Linked DNA regions of Homo sapiens. The protein of the gene in region 2 purifies or fractionates together with the protein of the main gene of each other region. This does not show direct contact. Each region holds a gene or a part of one and is shown on either strand. Other genes may lie near its edges.

Evidence for each region. Proteins that work in one complex are often made in the same cells at the same time.
Region 1: the proteins of ETF1 (region 2) and UPF1 purify together in Homo sapiens (affinity purification with western blotting; 2 studies listed by BioGRID and IntAct, with this or other methods). This does not show direct contact.

Annotation. Positions count from the first base shown.
Region 1 is NC_000019.10:18,862,941-18,866,685, forward strand, and holds part of UPF1 (regulator of nonsense transcripts 1), read left to right. Parts: intron 1-497; coding exon 498-672; intron 673-1,229; coding exon 1,230-1,311; intron 1,312-2,348; coding exon 2,349-2,510; intron 2,511-2,620; coding exon 2,621-2,838; intron 2,839-3,103; coding exon 3,104-3,223; 3' UTR 3,224-3,226; intron 3,227-3,580; 3' UTR 3,581-3,745. UniProt on the Homo sapiens protein: RNA-dependent helicase required for nonsense-mediated decay (NMD) of aberrant mRNAs containing premature stop codons and modulates the expression level of normal mRNAs.
Region 2 is NC_000005.10:138,515,601-138,519,345, forward strand, and holds part of ETF1 (eukaryotic peptide chain release factor subunit 1), read right to left. Parts: intron 3,268-3,745; coding exon 3,092-3,267; intron 2,101-3,091; coding exon 1,961-2,100; intron 1-1,960. UniProt on the Homo sapiens protein: Component of the eRF1-eRF3-GTP ternary complex, a ternary complex that mediates translation termination in response to the termination codons. The eRF1-eRF3-GTP complex binds to a stop codon in the ribosomal A-site.

The DNA.
Region 1 (3,745 bases), on a different chromosome or scaffold from region 2:
CTTCCGGCTCATATGCGCGGTGGTTCTCCTCTAGGTCACCATGGCTTTGTCATTGGTTACTCCCTCTTTCTAAGGCGCCCTCTTGTTTGGTGGGCAGTATTGGGTGGGTCCCCCCACAGCTTCGTGAGGTGGGCTAGAGGAGCTGGGCATCGGGTCAGTGCCCCGGCCTGCTGGGGGCCCTGTGGGGCCGCGTGTGCCCCGGTGCCTGGAAGGCCGACTCTCTTGACAGCAGGTCTTCTCTCCAAACGTATCCACCCAGCCAGGTGTCTGCCATGGGGCTGCTTAGAGTCGGCCACAAAATCAACCCGTGTGCAGGGTCAGTGGCTTGGCATTGGGCTTTGGGGCCTGTCCCTGTGGCTGGCAGCCTGCCTGCTGCCCGGTCCACGCCTCTGTTGCCTTGGATTTGGGTTCTGAGTGAATGCAGCCTTGCCTCTTGGACCGTCCTGTGAGACGGGCAGCTCTCCACCTGCGTCCTCAGCACTGCGCCCTTGTTGCAGGTATGGCGTCATCATTGTGGGCAACCCGAAGGCACTATCAAAGCAGCCGCTCTGGAACCACCTGCTGAACTACTATAAGGAGCAGAAGGTGCTGGTGGAGGGGCCGCTCAACAACCTGCGTGAGAGCCTCATGCAGTTCAGCAAGCCACGGAAGCTGGTCAACACTATCAACCCGGTGAGCGCCTGCACAGGACAGCAGGGCAGCACGGAGAAACCCGGGCCCAAAACACTGCTGGGAACGTGCCAGCTTGGCCCGTGTGCCCGTGAGCTGAGGGAGGGCTCTCCTAGGGGAGGGTGGGCTCTCCTAGGGGAGGGTGGGCCAGCCCACTTCTTGTCTCCCGAGCCGTGTGTGGCATTTTTGGCTTGGGGCCGCTAAGTCCTGGGTGGCCTCTGGGAATTGGGCTCAGGGCTGCTGTGCTGCATGCAGCAGCCTGGGACCTTGGACACGGGCAGTTGGAAGCTTTGCAAGCCCGGGGTGATCTGGTAGTGAGGGGGTGTGAAGCTTCCTGAGCTGAGGCCCAAGGGTCAGCATCAGAGCCCAGGTCTGCCGAGGAGGGCAGGCGAGACCCAGAGGCCATGAGACAGCAGCTCCCTCCTGTCTCCAGGGAGAGCCCCTGGCACAGTGTCAACACCTCACAGCTGCATACCTGCCACCTCCCAGGCCACCGGGCCCGTGGGAAGTTGTTCCTTCTGTTGAGATGACAAATTCCTCACCTATCTAAACCTTCGCAGGGAGCCCGCTTCATGACCACAGCCATGTATGATGCCCGGGAGGCCATCATCCCAGGCTCCGTCTATGATCGGAGCAGCCAGGGTGAGTCGCTCAGCAGGGGACCTGGCCGACCCCTTGTCCTCACACCGGGATGCTGGCCGTTCCCATGGCTGCAGCTTTAGGTGCCCCCATCTTTCCTTCCCCTCAAGGGCGGTGCCTGGCTCCCTTGGCCTCCCCGCCCCTAGGGCATCTCTAGCCCCGGAACACTCCTGGGGTGTTTGTCTTTAACCAGAGTTTATTCATTTGTGTTTCCTGGTGATCAAGCTAGTTAGCTTTTTCTTGCCTTTTGGTAGGGCAGGGACTGCATGTAGTACAAATAGAACATTTTCATAAAAAGGATTTTTTTTTTCCTTTGGTAAATGCAGGGTGATTTTCATTTATTTTCTTTTTTTTGTTTAGAGACAGGGTCTCCCTATGTTGTCCAGGCTGGTCTCAAACTCCTGCCTCAAGCAGTCCTTCTGCTCAGCCTCCCAAAGTGCTGGGATTACAGGCGTGAGTCACTGCACCTGGCCAATTTGCAGGTGTTTTTTTTTTTTTTTTTTTTTTTGGAGACCGAGTCTCGCTCTGTTGCCCAAGCTGGAGTACAGTGGTGTGATCTTGGCTCACTGCAACCTCCCCCTCTGGGTTCAAGCGATTCTCCTGCCTTGGCCTCCCGAGTAGCTGGGATTACAAGCACCCACCACCATGCCCGGCTAGTTTTTGTGTTTTTAGTAGAAACGAGGTTTCGCCATGTTGGCCTGGCTGGTCTCAAACTCCTGATCTCAGGTGGTCCACCTCGGCTTCCCAGAGTGCTGGGATTATAGGCTTGAGCCAACACGCCCGGCCCCAATTTTCAGTTTTTAAGATCTGTGTAGGCCAATGATTCCCAGCAGACTCTCCTCGGGGAAGGTGCCTGCCCAAGCACCCAGCCCCAGGCAGGCTGCTGTAGTTAACATGGAGTCCTGCGAATCCGCATCTTCAGCCTGGGCAGAGCCAGGACAGATGTGCAGCTCCGGCTGACTGGCTGGTGGGGTGGGTGGGGTATCGCTGGGGTTTGACCGAGGCAGGTGACACCTGCCGTGTTCCACTGTGATTTGCAGGCCGGCCTTCCAGCATGTACTTCCAGACCCATGACCAGATTGGCATGATCAGTGCCGGCCCTAGCCACGTGGCTGCCATGAACATTCCCATCCCCTTCAACCTGGTCATGCCACCCATGCCACCGCCTGGCTATTTTGGACAAGCCAACGGGCCTGCTGCAGGTGAGCATCTGTGGCTGCGGCTGGGTGTGGCCCTCCTGAGAGCTCTTGAGGGTGTGCTTGTCTGCGAGGCCCTGGCCTCCTTCGGATCACCCTGGACTGCTGTCTTTCAGGGCGAGGCACCCCGAAAGGCAAGACTGGTCGTGGGGGACGCCAGAAGAACCGCTTTGGGCTTCCTGGACCCAGCCAGACTAACCTCCCCAACAGCCAAGCCAGCCAGGATGTGGCGTCACAGCCCTTCTCTCAGGGCGCCCTGACGCAGGGCTACATCTCCATGAGCCAGCCTTCCCAGATGAGCCAGCCCGGCCTCTCCCAGCCGGAGCTGTCCCAGGTGAGCCCGCCCCTGGGACGGGACTTACCTGAGTGAGGGTGGGGCTATGCACCTGAAACATTCCCTCTGAAGAGCCCCAGAGAGCTGGCCTGGCCCATGTCCACTGTCTGAATTACCTGTCCCTGGGCTGGGGTCATCAGAGTGGGTCTCCTGGGTCTTAGTTTGGGGACGGGTTTTCCATTCTTTTCTCTGGGGCTGCTGAGGGCTGGGTGGATGTGAGCACCCTTGGCCTGTGGCTTGCTTACCTCCTGACCTTGTCTTTCAGGACAGTTACCTTGGTGACGAGTTTAAATCACAAATCGACGTGGCGCTCTCACAGGACTCCACGTACCAGGGAGAGCGGGCTTACCAGCATGGCGGGGTGACGGGGCTGTCCCAGTATTAAAAGGCAAGCCCCCCTGGAGCAGGCCTGGCCCCACCCCAGCCTCAAGGAGAAGGATGGGAGGGGGCTCTCCCCAGGGAGCTGCACTGGAGGGGTGGTATCTGGAAATGTGTGCTGTGCCTGGTGGGGGTCATAGGCCCTCAGGGCCAGCTTGGCCTGTGCCCTTCACTGCTAGTCAGGGTGGCTCCTCACCCCACCCTACCCCATCCTGTCTGCTCCGGGGACCACCGCGGGACCTCAGTTTCCTCATCAGAGTCGGGGAGGGCAGCTCGGGCTCTCCCTCACTGTCCTGTGTGCTGGGTACCTGTGGGGCTCAGGTCGCAGCCTCTCACCGCCTCCTGCCCTTCTCCCTCCTGACAGGTGGCGGCGGAAGAGCTAAGCAACGTGGCTTAGTCCATCAGCATCTTATTCTGGGTAATAAAAAATAAAAATAAACGGATACCTGTTTTCCACTGCTAAAACTGAAGCACCACTGTGTGAGCAACAGGAAGGGAGAGCGCACGAGGGAGAGGAGCCGAGGCCGAG
Region 2 (3,745 bases):
TCTCAGTTAAAGCTAAAATGTACAAAGTTAGCAAGATTAAACAGTATCTTAGAAAAGGAGTTAAGGTTTGGAAAAAAGCCAACAAGGCTAACTCAGTAAGTGAGCAAAAGCCAGACAACATGGGTACCTGGCACTGTTTAAATCAACAAGATTCAAAATCGGCTTTCATCCAACCAGATACAGGTAAGTGGTTTCAGTGGCTGAGAGGCTCCCTGAAAAACCCTCTGCTGTAAGTAGAGTGTGGTAGTGAAGAGAAAAACAGTCTGGATTGTCTATGCAGTCGACCAAGATCCAACTATAAATGGACTTCCCATCAAGTTAGCAAAAATCATCCACTGTAAACTGTCGACAAATGTCAGTTCTAATTCCACTGTAGAGGTTTTTCCCTAGGTTGATGAAAGGCAAGAGAATGAACTAAGGAGCCAGCTGTGAATTCTTGATTGTTCTACTGTTGACTGATTTAGGTCACTCTAATGAGGTTTCCTTTCCACTGTTCAAGTTCATCCTATGGCAGCTTTGTCACTCAAAAGTTTCAGGGGAAAGGGGGGAAAATGAGTTCTTACAGTTCTGCTACTAAAAATTTTACAATTGTTATGTGAAAACTGAGTGCAATAACTCAAAGAGTATAACTGGACTGCTTGTAACACAATGGATATACGCTTGAGGAAATGGGTACCCTATTTTCCATAGTGTGATAGCTCACATTGCATGCCTGTATCAAAACATCTCATGTACCCCATATACACCTACTATGTACCCACAAAAATCAAAACACACACACACACACACACTTTGGGAGGCTGAAGCGAGCAGATCACTTGAGGCCAGGAGTTTGGGACAGGCCTGGCCAACATGGCAAAACTCTGTCTCTACTAAAAAAACACAAAAAATTAGCCAGGCATGGTGGTGCACACCTGTAATCCCAGTTATTCAGGAGGCTTGAGGCACAAGAATCGCTTGAACCATGGAGATGGAGGTTGCAGTGGGCCAAGATTGCACCACTGCACTCTAGCCTGGGCGACAGTGTGAGACTCTGTCTCAAAACATGCTGAATGACTAGTGTCATAATAAATGTAAATTGCCTTACTTTTTGAAAACAGACAGCTTTGTAAAATGGTACAACGGTTTGGAAAACAGTCTAGCAACTTCTTAAAAAGTTAAACATAATTACTATATAACCTACACGATTCCACAAATCTAAGAAACATGAAAATGTATGGTCACATAGAAACTTGTCCATGAATGTTCACAGCAGCATTATTCAGAACAGCCAAACAGTGCAAACCACTCAAATGTAAAACTGATGAAACGAGAAGCTATATAAAATATGAAATATGGCATATAGGTATACAATGGAATACTACTTGGTAATCAAAAGGGATGAAATGTACTGATGAATGCTACCACATGGAACCTTAAAAGTATAAAGTAAAAGAAGCCAGTCACAAAAGGCCACAAACTATATGATTCCATTATATAAAATGTCCAGGCTGGGCGGGGTTGCTCATGCCTGTAATCCTAGTACTTTGGGAGGCTAAGGTGGGTGGATCACGAGGTCAGGAGTCTGAGACCAGCCTGACCAATGTGTTTAAACACCATCTCTACTAAAAATACAAAAAAATTAGCTGGGTGTGGTGGCATGTGCCTGCAATCCCAGCTACTCAGGAGGCTGAGACAGGAGAATCCCTTGAATCTGGGAGGCGGAGCTTGCAGTGAGCCGAGATCATACCACTGCACTCCAGCCTGGGAGACAGAGCGAGACTCCGTCTAAAAAAAAAATAAAAAAATAAAAATAAAAAAATAAAAATAAAAGAAGTACAGCACAAGCATATCTATGGAAAGAAAATATAGTGGTTGCCTAGAATGAGACAGGTAAGTGGGAGGGATGGGGGACTGACTGCTAATGGGTACGGGGAAAGAATTCTGGAGCGATGAAAATGTTCTGGGTTTGACTTCTTACCTCTGTATGGAATTTGTTGTCACACAAATACAATGACGTATTAATTGGTTTGAAAGGTTCAAAGTCAATGTTGACTTTCTTTTCCTTTCCTTCTTCTGTTACAATTGTTCCACAGTATACAACCAGACCATTTGGAGGTACTGCAAAGAACACAAACAATTTTTCTACTTTACCCCATATCTAGTTTTTCGTCAATTAATAGAAAATGTTCCCATAGCCTATTTTCCCTGCCTGATCCTTTAAGTCATAATTTAAATAAAGCAGAAAAAGCTTGAAATCTCTCAGGCAGAACTCTCTCCCTAATTTTAAAACTTCTTCTGAGACGTTTCAGTACGATTTATTCTTTAAAGTAAACAGGCTGGACGTGGTGGTGGCTCACGCCTGTAATCCCAGCACTCTGGGAGGCCGAGGTAGGCGGATCACCTGACGTCAGGAATTCAAGACCAACCTGGCCAACATGGTGAAACCCCATCTCTACGAAAAATACAAAAAGTAGCCAGGCGTGGTGATGGGCACCTGTAGTCCCAGCTACTCGAGAGGCTGAGACGGAAGAATCACTTCAACCTGGGAGGCTTGTGGTGAGCTGAGATCGGATTACTGCACTTCAGTCTCTGGGTGACAGAGCAAGACTCTGTCTCATCCCAAAAAAAAAAAAAAAAAAAAAAATTGAGACAACGCCTCACTCTGTCACTCAGGCTAGTGTGCAGCAGCGAGATCGTGGCTCACTGCAACTCCCACCTCCCGGGTCCAGTTGATTCTCTCGCCTCAGCCTCCAGAGTAGATGGGACTACAGGTGTGTGCCACCAGGCCTGGCTAACTTTTGTATTTTTTGTAGAGACAGGGTTTCACACCATGTTGTCCAGGCTGGTCTCGAACTCCTGACCTCAAGTGATCCACCTGCCTCAGCTTCCCAAAGTGCTGGGATTACAGGCATGAGCCACTGTGCCTGGCCTACTTAACTTTCAATAAACAAAAAACAAAACAAAACAAAAAAGCTAACCACCAAGGCCAAAGAGACACTGATGACAGCCGACTTAAGGGAACATTAGTGAACAAAGCACCATAGCAGCATCACAGTATAAAACATAACCAAAATGTGTAGAGAAGGAAAAGGAGCAAACTCCAGATTACCTTTGTTATAAAGTTTGAGTCTTTGTTGTACAGATGTAATGGCTCCCAGGACTGAAAGGCGGTTTACTCGTGACTTAATGTTAGATGCAGTTCCAAACTCATCCGCTAACATTTTTGCCACTCGTGAAATCTGGTCTTTGGGAGGAATGATCAATGATATCATGCTGGTGCCATTGCTGTGGAAGAAAGAATAACTCATTAGGGATTTAAATATCATGTAAGTAAACTCATGTTTCTCTCTGGTAAAAGCAAGCTACAGGGAGATGCCCCAAAGTTATGGAAACAGGTCACTCTCAAAGGAGTAATGTAGGGACTATATTAGTCTTGTTTATGAACGTATACACAGAGTTAGGAACAGTGTTCAGAATCTAGTGCTCAATTTGATTGAATAGTGAGGTAAGTTATGTAAAGAATACACTTGGAGAGATACTTGAGAAACACCTCATTTCCTAAAGAAAGAAGCTATCTATGATAAATAAGGAGTGTCAACAGGCTGGAATTTGGTAGTGAATCTGTCCGTGGGAGAGCCTTCAAATGTGGTGGTTGAGTGGGAGACGCCATGACAGGATGATGCAATGAGTCTTTCCAAAGTCTAGGCATATTTGTAATCAAGAATTTAGTATTCTAATGATGGGAAAGGAGAACTGTGGAAGT